2 separate regions of the Homo sapiens genome follow, and region 1 is linked to region 2. Evidence: fine-mapped expression QTL. A gene starts in region 2. The other region holds a variant in brackets. All regions are shown on one strand. Distances are between the middles of the regions.

Region 1 (4,393 bases), 420 kb before region 2:
CTCAAAATAATAAGAGCTGTTTATGACAAACCTATATCCAGTACCATACTGAATGGGCAAAAACTGGAAGCATTCCCTTTGAAAACTGGGACAAGACAGGGATGCCCTCTCTCACCACTCCTATTCAACATAGTGTTGGAAGTTCTGGCCAGGGCAATCAGGCAGGAGAAAGAAATAAAGGGCATTCAATTAGGAAAAGAGGAAGTCAAATTGTCCCTGTTTGCATATGACATGATTGTATATCTAGAAAACCCCATTGTCTCAGCCCAAAATCTCCTGAAGCTGATAAGCAGCTTCAGCAAAGTCTCAGGATACAAAGTCAATGTGCAAAAATCACAAGCATTCTTATACACCAATAACAGACAAACAGAGAGCCAAATCATGAGTGAACTCCCATTCACAAATGCTTCAAAGAGAATAAAATAGGAATCCAACTTACAAGGGATGTGAAGGACCTCTTCAAGGAGAACTACAAACCACTGCTCAATGAAATAAAAAAGGACACAAACAAATGGAAGAATATTCCATGCTCATGGATAGGAAGAATCAATATTGTGAAAATGGCCATACTGCCCAAGGTAATTTATACATTCAATGCCATCCCCATCAAGCTACCAATGACTTTCTTCACAGAATTGGAAAAAACTACTTTAAAGTTCATATGGAACCAAAAAAGAGCCCGCATTGCCAAGACAATCCTAAGCCAAAAGAACAAAGCTGGAGGCATCACACTACCTGACTTCAAACTATACTACAAGGCTACAGTAACCAAAACAGTATGGTACTGGTATCAAAACAGAGATATAGACCGATGGAAAAGAACAGAGCCCTCAGAAATAATACCACACATCTACAACTATCTGATCCTTGACAAACCTGAGAAAAACAAGAAATGGGGAAAGGATTCCCCATTTAATAAATGGTGCAGGGAAAACTGGCTAGCCATATATAGAAAGCTGAAACTGGATCCCTTCCTTACACCTTATACAAAAATCAATTCAAGATGGATTAAAGAGTTAAATGTTAGACCTAAAACCATAAAAACCCTAGAAGAAAACCTAGGCAATGCCATTCAGGACATAGGCATGGGCAAGGACTTCATGTCTAAAACACCAAAAGCAATGGCAGCAAAAGCCAGAATTGACAAATGGGATCTAATTAAACTAAAGAGCTTCTGCACAGCAAAAGAAACTACCATCAGAGTGAACAGGCAACCTACAGAATGGGAGAAAATTTTTGCAATCTACCCATCTGACAAAGGGCTAATATCCAGAATCTACAAAGAACTTAAACAAATGTACAAGAAAAAAACAAACAACCCCATCAACAAGTGGGTGAAGGATATGAACAGACACTTCTCAAAAGAAGACATTTATGCAAACAAAAGACACATGAAAAAATGCTCATCATCACTGGCCATCAGAGAAATGCAAATCAAAACCACAGTGAGATACCACTTCACACCAGTTAGAATGGTGATCATTAAAAAGTCAGGAAACAACAGGTGCTGGAGAGGATGTGGAAAAATAGGAACGCTTTTACACTGTTGGTGGGACTGTAAACTAGTTCAACCATTGTGGAAGTCAGTGTGGCAATTCCTCAGGGATCTAGAACTAGAAATACCATTTGACCCAACCATCCCATTACTGGGCATATACCCAAAGGATTATAAATCATGCTGCTATAAAGACACATGCACACATATATTTATTGCAGCACTATTCACAGTAGCAAAGATTTGGAACCAACCCAAATGTCCATCAATGATAGACTGGATTAAGAAAATGTGGCACATATACACCATGGAATACTATGCAGCCATAAAAAAGGATGAGTTCATGTCCTTTGTAGGGACATGGATGAAGCTGGAAACCATCATTCTCAGCAAACTATCACAATGGCAT[G/A]TTCTCACTCATAGGTGGGAATCGAACAATGAGAACCCTTGGACACAGGAAGGGGAACATCACACACTGGGGCCTGTTGTGGGGTGGGAGGAGTGGGGAGGGATAGCATTAGGAGATACACCTGATGTAAATACCGAGTTAATGGGTGCAGCACACCAACATGGCACATGTATACATATGTAACAAACATGCACATTGTGCACATGTACCCTAGAACTTAAAGTATAATAAAAAAAATAAAAATAAAAAATCTAAAAAAATAAAATAGCAAAACTTGGTAAATTTCACTTCAAATTTTAGTTGTAGGATCGTTATTAATAAAGATAACTCAGTATACAAGGAGGAATTTTTCTTCCTACCTATCCTTGCCCAGTGTGGATTCAGAAATTAAATCATTTTAATTTTGTGAACTGCTTAATGAATCAATTTAGAGAAGATTAGGTGTTTGGTTCATATGAAAACAAAATCAACAGGGCACTACATGAAAAACTGCATATTGAAAAAAACTAGAGTTTAGCTGTTCAATTCTTATGTGAGAAGACAATGGGGAAAAAACCAAAGTGCTAAAATGCTAAGAAAAATTAAAATGTTCAATCTACAATTCCGGACCAACCAGCCTCAGTCATTTGTAGTCCTCTAGAGATCCAGTAAGCATTTATCAACTAAAAGGAAAGAAAAAAGGTAAACAACTCTTATCAAAATGGATAATTTCATAAGTATGCAAAGCTACTCTGTCTTGATCCATGGTGAGTAAAACTGGTTGTTAAATAACTAAGCATAGTTTACATCATGTGGCAGCTTTAAGTATCGAAGTTCCCAGATGAAGAATGCAGACAGTTCCAATGTCAAAGATTGCAGCCAAGGGTCTTCTTAGGGGGCACATCTCCCTCCATGGGATTGGTTCCTGATGCCTTATATACCTTTTGTAGTGCGGTCAGATTTTACTGGTTGCTCTTGATGCTTGTAGATATCCCCCAATTTCTGGGCATTGCAGAGTTAGGTATTTATTGTAGTCTTCATCGTGTGGGCTCATTTGTATCTATCCTCCATGGGAAGGTTTTCCAGATATTCGAAGGAACTTGGGTGTTGTGATCTAAGTTTTTAGTTACTGAAGCCTTATCTGTGCTAGAGAACACCCCAAGCCCAGTAACACTGTGGTTCTTGAAAACTTGTATTATGTACCAGCTTGCTGGTCTTGGATATGATCTCAAAGTATTATCTGGATTACCAGCCAGAGACTTTTGTTCTCTTCCTTTACTTTCCCCGAAACAAAGTCTCTCCTTGTGCTGAGCTGTCTGCAGCTGGGGGCGGAGTGACACAACCCCCGCTGTAGTCACCACCACTGAGACTGCCCTGGGTCAAACCTGAAGCCAGCATAGCACTGGTCTCACCCAAGGCCGAGTATAACCACATCTGGCCACCGCCTATGTTTTCTCAAGGCCTTAGGTCTCTACAGTAAGCAAGTGGCGAAGCTGGCGAGGCTTCTGTCCTTCCCTTTAGGGCAGCAAGTTCCCATATTCCCCAGGCAGGTCCAGAGAACCAGGGTCTGGAGTTGAAAACCACATAAATATATTCTATTCTGTATTCTACTATGGCTCATCTGGCACCCAAACCACAAGACAAAGTCCTTCCCACTGTTCTCTCCTCTTTCTACAGACAGAGCAGTCTCCCCTGCTGGCCACCACTTCCCCAGGCCCACAGGGAATACTTCCAGGATAACACTGATGTTCATTCAAGGGCCAAGGGCTCTTCATTCGGTTTTTGGTGAATGCTTCCAGGCCTGGGACTCAACCTTCAGGGCAGTGAGCTACCCTCTGGCCCAGGGAAGGTCCATAAATGCTGTCCAAGCGCCAAGGCCTAGAATCAGGGACCCAAAGAGCCTGCTTGGTGCTCTCCCACCAAGCTGTGGCCAAGCTCACACCTAAGCTGCAAAACAAAGTCCCCTTTGCTTTTCCCTCTCCTTTTCTCAAGCAGAGGGAGTCTTTCTGGATAGACACCACAGCTAGGAATATGCTGGGTCACAACTAAAATCAATGTGTCACAGAATCTCACGCAAGGCCCATGATGTGTACTGGCCAGCTACCACTGCTGATTAATCAGGGCTCAAGGGCTCCTTAGTCAGCAGATGATTAATCCTGCTAGGACAGGGCCCTTCTCTTCAAGGCAGCAAAGTTCCCTTCTGGCCCAGTATATTTCTAGAAATGTTGTCCAGGTTCTGGGGCTTGGAATGTGAGCCTCACAACTCTGCCTGCTCCCCTATCCTACTGTGGCTGAGCTGGTGTCCAAGTTGTAAGACAAAGTTCTATTTATTCTCCCCTCTCCTCCTCTCAAGGGGAAGGAACAAGTCTCTCCAAGAATTGCTAGTTATACTGCCTGCGGTTGGTAGAGAGGTGGTGCAATTACTTACTTGGCTGCTGCAATTAGTGTTTCATGTTCCCCTCAACCCCCAAATCCACTGGCTCTGAGGTCAGCACACCGGGACCTGCCTA
Region 2 (4,327 bases):
CCAGCGTCAGACCTTAGTACGTGCCCCAAGATAACCCCTTGGTTTCTCTCCCTTTTCCGCCTACAATGGGCCTTCCCCAATGTTTGTAACATATTCATAATCCACAACACGGCACCTCTGATAATCAACTCACATTCTTCAAAGTTTTCGGGTGGAAACAAGCAGGGCCAAGGGGAGGGCAAGGTACCCTTTTTCCGACTAGCAGGGATGGGGGAAGGGGCAGTCGTTCTTTGGCTCTGCACCGAGCTCTAGAACCTCGTCGGCTGAGAGGTGGGGGGCGGGTTGGGGGTACAAGGTGGGGAGGGAGTGGTGAAAGAGTTAGGTTAAGTTGAAATGAAAACTTTACTCACCAGATCCTCGAAGCTTCTTCGGTGCTCTTTCCCCTCCCAATCTAAGCGGCGCGGAATCAGCTGGGGGCCGGACGAAAAGAAAGGGGGAAGCGGAGGCAAATGATGAAGGAAAAGCCTCCGCTCCCCATCAACTGGACCCAACCTGTGTCCCAGTCCTCAACACTTTACCGTCTTTATTTCTCTCGGCCTGATAGCTATTGGCTCAGAGCTAGACAAGTATATGGGGGGGGGGGGGAAGGGGGGTCGAGAAGGAAATCCTGAAAAACTGCCTCCCACAAGCATAAAGCGGGGACGAGTTAAGACCCCAGCGTTGTCTGCCCCTTTTGAGGGAAGAAGCCAATTCACCCCGGTGACAACAGCTACGGGTACCCAGATCGAAGCCTCTATCCCAGCCCGTCTTCCGCCCCTGACTTGCCCTCCCCTTCCTCCAGTCTCACCTCAACCCTCCCCACCCTTCCCGAAGGGGCTCCGTACCTGATGCTCCTCGAGCTCCTGCACTAGCACCTGAGCAAAAGGGAAACACAGATATGAGGAGCAGCTCGGGCCATCAACCCATTCCTCCCTCCACACTTAAAGCCCAGCCGCTGACCGTTTGACTAGTCAAGGCCGGCCTTTCCCTCACCCTCAACGGAACTGCTCGTCCCGCTGCCTCGATTTCCCCACTGGGACCATTCACCACGACTCCCAGATCTCTTTCTTCCCCTTACCTGAGCGGATTTGTTGCAGGGTCCAGACTGCAAGAACCTAGCGATCAGGTAATACAGCTCTGGGGAAGAGGGGGGAAAAGAGGTTCAGAGGGAGGTAGAGAAGAGAAATAGAAGCTTTTTCAAAAGAAACTGACAGCCTTCGCGCTAAGCCCCCATTCCCTTAGCACCCCCCCACCCCCCGACACAGCTACCCACCGGCTTCGATCTGGGTAGGTGCTGCCGCCATCCTTTTCCCGAGGGGGTTTGGGGGCTTCGCTCCGGAGGGGCTGGCGGGGGCGGGTGGGGGCGCTGCCTCTATTGTGGTGAAGCCCCCATGCCCGGGAGTCCCGCCGCTTCCGCCGCACTCCTCGTCCTAGTTTCGCTCTCTCTCGAATTCATCGCATCACGTTTCGACCCATAGATATTCTAGCCCAAGAGCTGAGGAGGCGGAGGAGGAAGGAGAGGAGAGGGAGAGGGAGAGAGAGAGTGAGTGAGTGAGAGAGAGAGAGAGAAGAGAGAGAGAGAGAGAGGAAAAAGAGAGAGAGAGAGAGAGAGAGAGAGAGAGAGAGAGAGAGAGAGACGCGGGGGGTGGGGGGGCGGAGAGAGAGAGAGAGAGAGAGATAGACGGAGCGAGAAGAGGGAGGAGCCGAAGTGGCGAAGAGGTGGGCGGGGGCAAAGGGGGTGGAGAGAGGGGAGGGTAAAAATGGTGATAGGGTTTTGCAGCGCTCATAGTTCCCCGCTAGAGGCACTAATACAGCAGCTGAGCCTAGACTCTCCCGGAGCCCGATGGTTGCTTAGCTACAGCTCTGGGAAGGAGGGGGAGGTGCTAACTGACGGCCGACGCTCTGGCAGCCGCCTTGGAACTCTGTGGTGGCATTCGCGTCTGCGAGCTCCGGAGTGACTTTCCCTTCCTGTGAAGGCAATCCGGCCCTTTCCGGTGGAGGACCCTTCCCCCTGGGTTGATCTTGAGGAACTTAAGAGACGGTGTTTTGACTCGACTCCTTTCCCCTTTTTCCTCCCGGTACCAAAGCGGTTTTGTTTGCTGTTTATACTCTACCCCGTGGAAAGGCGGCTAGCTGGCTAAAGGGTTTTATGCCTGGGGGAGGATGAGTCGCTATTTGGTCGTGACTTGTTTCTGTTTAAAATTATTATTATTTACCAAATGAAAATGTTGTACTTACCAGTCCAAAGTGCGGGGCTTATATTGTTAGAAGACCACTTAAAATGCTCCTGGATTCTGACAAATATTGCATGAGAAATTTGCAATCAGCCGTGAAGCATGTTTCCCCTTCTGAAAGTTTAACACGTGCCGTATCTACGGCTGGGATCTAACACATCCCATTCCTACAGGGTAATTTCCTATTGTGTTTTCAAATACTACTAAAGTACTTTAACCAAGAGTTTTCAATAATCTTTATGTATTATTGCCTATCTCTATGCAAGGTATCAATAGTTTTCTACAGGTTCGGGACTACACTGTTTAATATATAACCCCAACCCTTGGTACCGCACTGACCTTCAGTATTTGGTTGCTGAAATCTTCAATGATGAAAGGGGTTGGTATGATAATTGACACAGATTAGTAAACCGGGTCCTTTTCTTCCCTACTTTCCCGTAACATCCTGTCCCCACCCCACTCCCTCACCTAAACCTGATGAGACCAGAAATGCATTTTAAGTTGCATGTATTATTTACATTGAAATATTACAATTTGAAGGTTCATCTAAATTTAAGGCTATATTCTTGGGAATTGGGTTTCCTCACTCAGCTCTGCCACTGACCACAGTGGGCCTTGAATTTCTAAGTTGACATAAACTTAGCCTAGGTTGATTAGCTCTCACTTGTAATTTTTTTTTTTCCTCAGAAAGCAATAACCACAGGAGGTAATTGTGAAGTGATAGGCTTATCTTTGGTTGTTATTGCCATGGAACTTGACAAAACAAATATGAATAATTGATACAACAAAATGATATAAAAAGATACATGAGACCTAGACAACTCATTGCAAGTAGTTTAGCAAAATACCAGACTGAATAATTTTATAGTTGAAGTATAATGTACAGGTTGAGTATTCTTTATCCAAAGTGCTTGGGACCAGAAATGTTTTGGATTTTGGACTTTTTCAGATTTTGGAATATTTGCATATACATAATGAGATATTTCAGCTATAGGACCCAAGTCTAAATTTGAATTTCATTTGTTCCATTTATACCTTATACACATAGACTGAAGATAATTTTATATAATATTTTCAATAACTTTGTGCACGAAACAAAGTCTTGACTGCCTTTTGACTGTGATCCTCCACTTGAGGTCAGATGTGGAATTTTCCATTTGTGGCATCATGTTGACACTCAAAAATTTTGGATTTTGGAGCATTTTGAATTTTGGATTTTTAGATTAGGGATGTTTGACCTGTATGTAACAGTTAACACTTAACAAGCCATTATCATGTCCTCAGCACTTTTACGTGCTTACCTCATTTAATCTTTACAATGACCCTAGGAGATAGGTTCAATTGTTATTCTCATTTTACAAATGATAAAAATGACTATGAATTTGGTCCACTCACAGCCTGTGAACCTCATTCCTCACCTGTAAAATGTGAATAATAAATAGTATTTGCCATGTCTACTTCAAGGAATTGTTATAAAATTCGTGTGAAAATGTATTTGTGTACTCTTTCAAAATTTATGTGGCAGTTATTCCATGATCACCTCTGTATCAGTCAGTTCAATTATTAATGATAACAGGAAATTGGAATAATGAGGGCTTAGCTAGCAAGAAGTAAAGAGAACTCTAAATACTACAGATGTAGCAGGTATATAATAGTAGATATGATAGCCACTACCCCTGGAACTGAGATAAAGCATTCTCTTCCCTTAGCTGAGATCCAGACCTTCTTAGAGAGAACACAGCCAGTGGAGAGTCACTCTATGGCAGGAAATATTCTGTATTGCCTTACAGGCAGAACTTGCTGAAACTCCAACCTCTGGAAATTACTGGAACCCTGCATTCTAGAACTTGCTGGAAACCCACCCTCTGGAATTGGCCTGCTAGAGTGCCTGAGAAGGATGTTCATAGGGAAATGTTTCAGCAGAGGAACTCTACTACAAAAACCACAAGAGGGAGGGTGCCAGGGGAAGTGGCCTGGTGCTATTGAAACTGCAACACAGAAGCCAGCCACTGGAGAGAGCTGCACAAGCTGCAGGAACACCCTACCCAGTAAGCCGGCCAGAAGGAGGGAGCAAAACCTTTTCTCTCTGCAACATCTTTCCAGTTTCCTCTACT

Direction of the effects. Positions count from the first base shown, and alleles are read on the strand shown. Sizes are in standard deviations (SD) of each study's normalised expression.
As copies of G replace A in region 1, the expression in sigmoid colon of the gene that starts at base 1,689 in region 2 goes down (small effect, 0.30 SD a copy in GTEx).

What was found. PIP is the estimated chance that this variant, and not a neighbour inherited with it, causes the effect. A credible set is the group of variants that fine-mapping cannot tell apart.
Region 1: its variant is the best candidate, but not a certain one, in a credible set for the expression of BRWD3 in sigmoid colon (GTEx, PIP 0.60).

Annotation. Positions count from the first base shown.
Region 1 is chrX:80,384,423-80,388,815 of GRCh38, forward strand. It overlaps a transcript of TENT5D not described here. Among named protein-coding and RNA genes, the nearest start is that of TENT5D, 34 kb to the right of the region's middle. The variant G/A (reference allele first, on the strand shown) is at 1,905.
Region 2 is chrX:80,808,189-80,812,515 of GRCh38, forward strand. BRWD3 (bromodomain and WD repeat domain containing 3) reads right to left here and starts at 1,689. Exons shown (of 41, transcript NM_153252.5): 1 at 1,253-1,689; 2 at 1,058-1,116; 3 at 825-854; 4 at 351-410. The coding sequence starts at 1,283. It overlaps LOC124905202 (a long non-coding RNA gene), which reads left to right and starts at 620. Exons shown (of 2, transcript XR_007068278.1): 1 at 620-1,105; 2 at 3,923-4,327. RefSeq lists an enhancer at 1,924-2,003.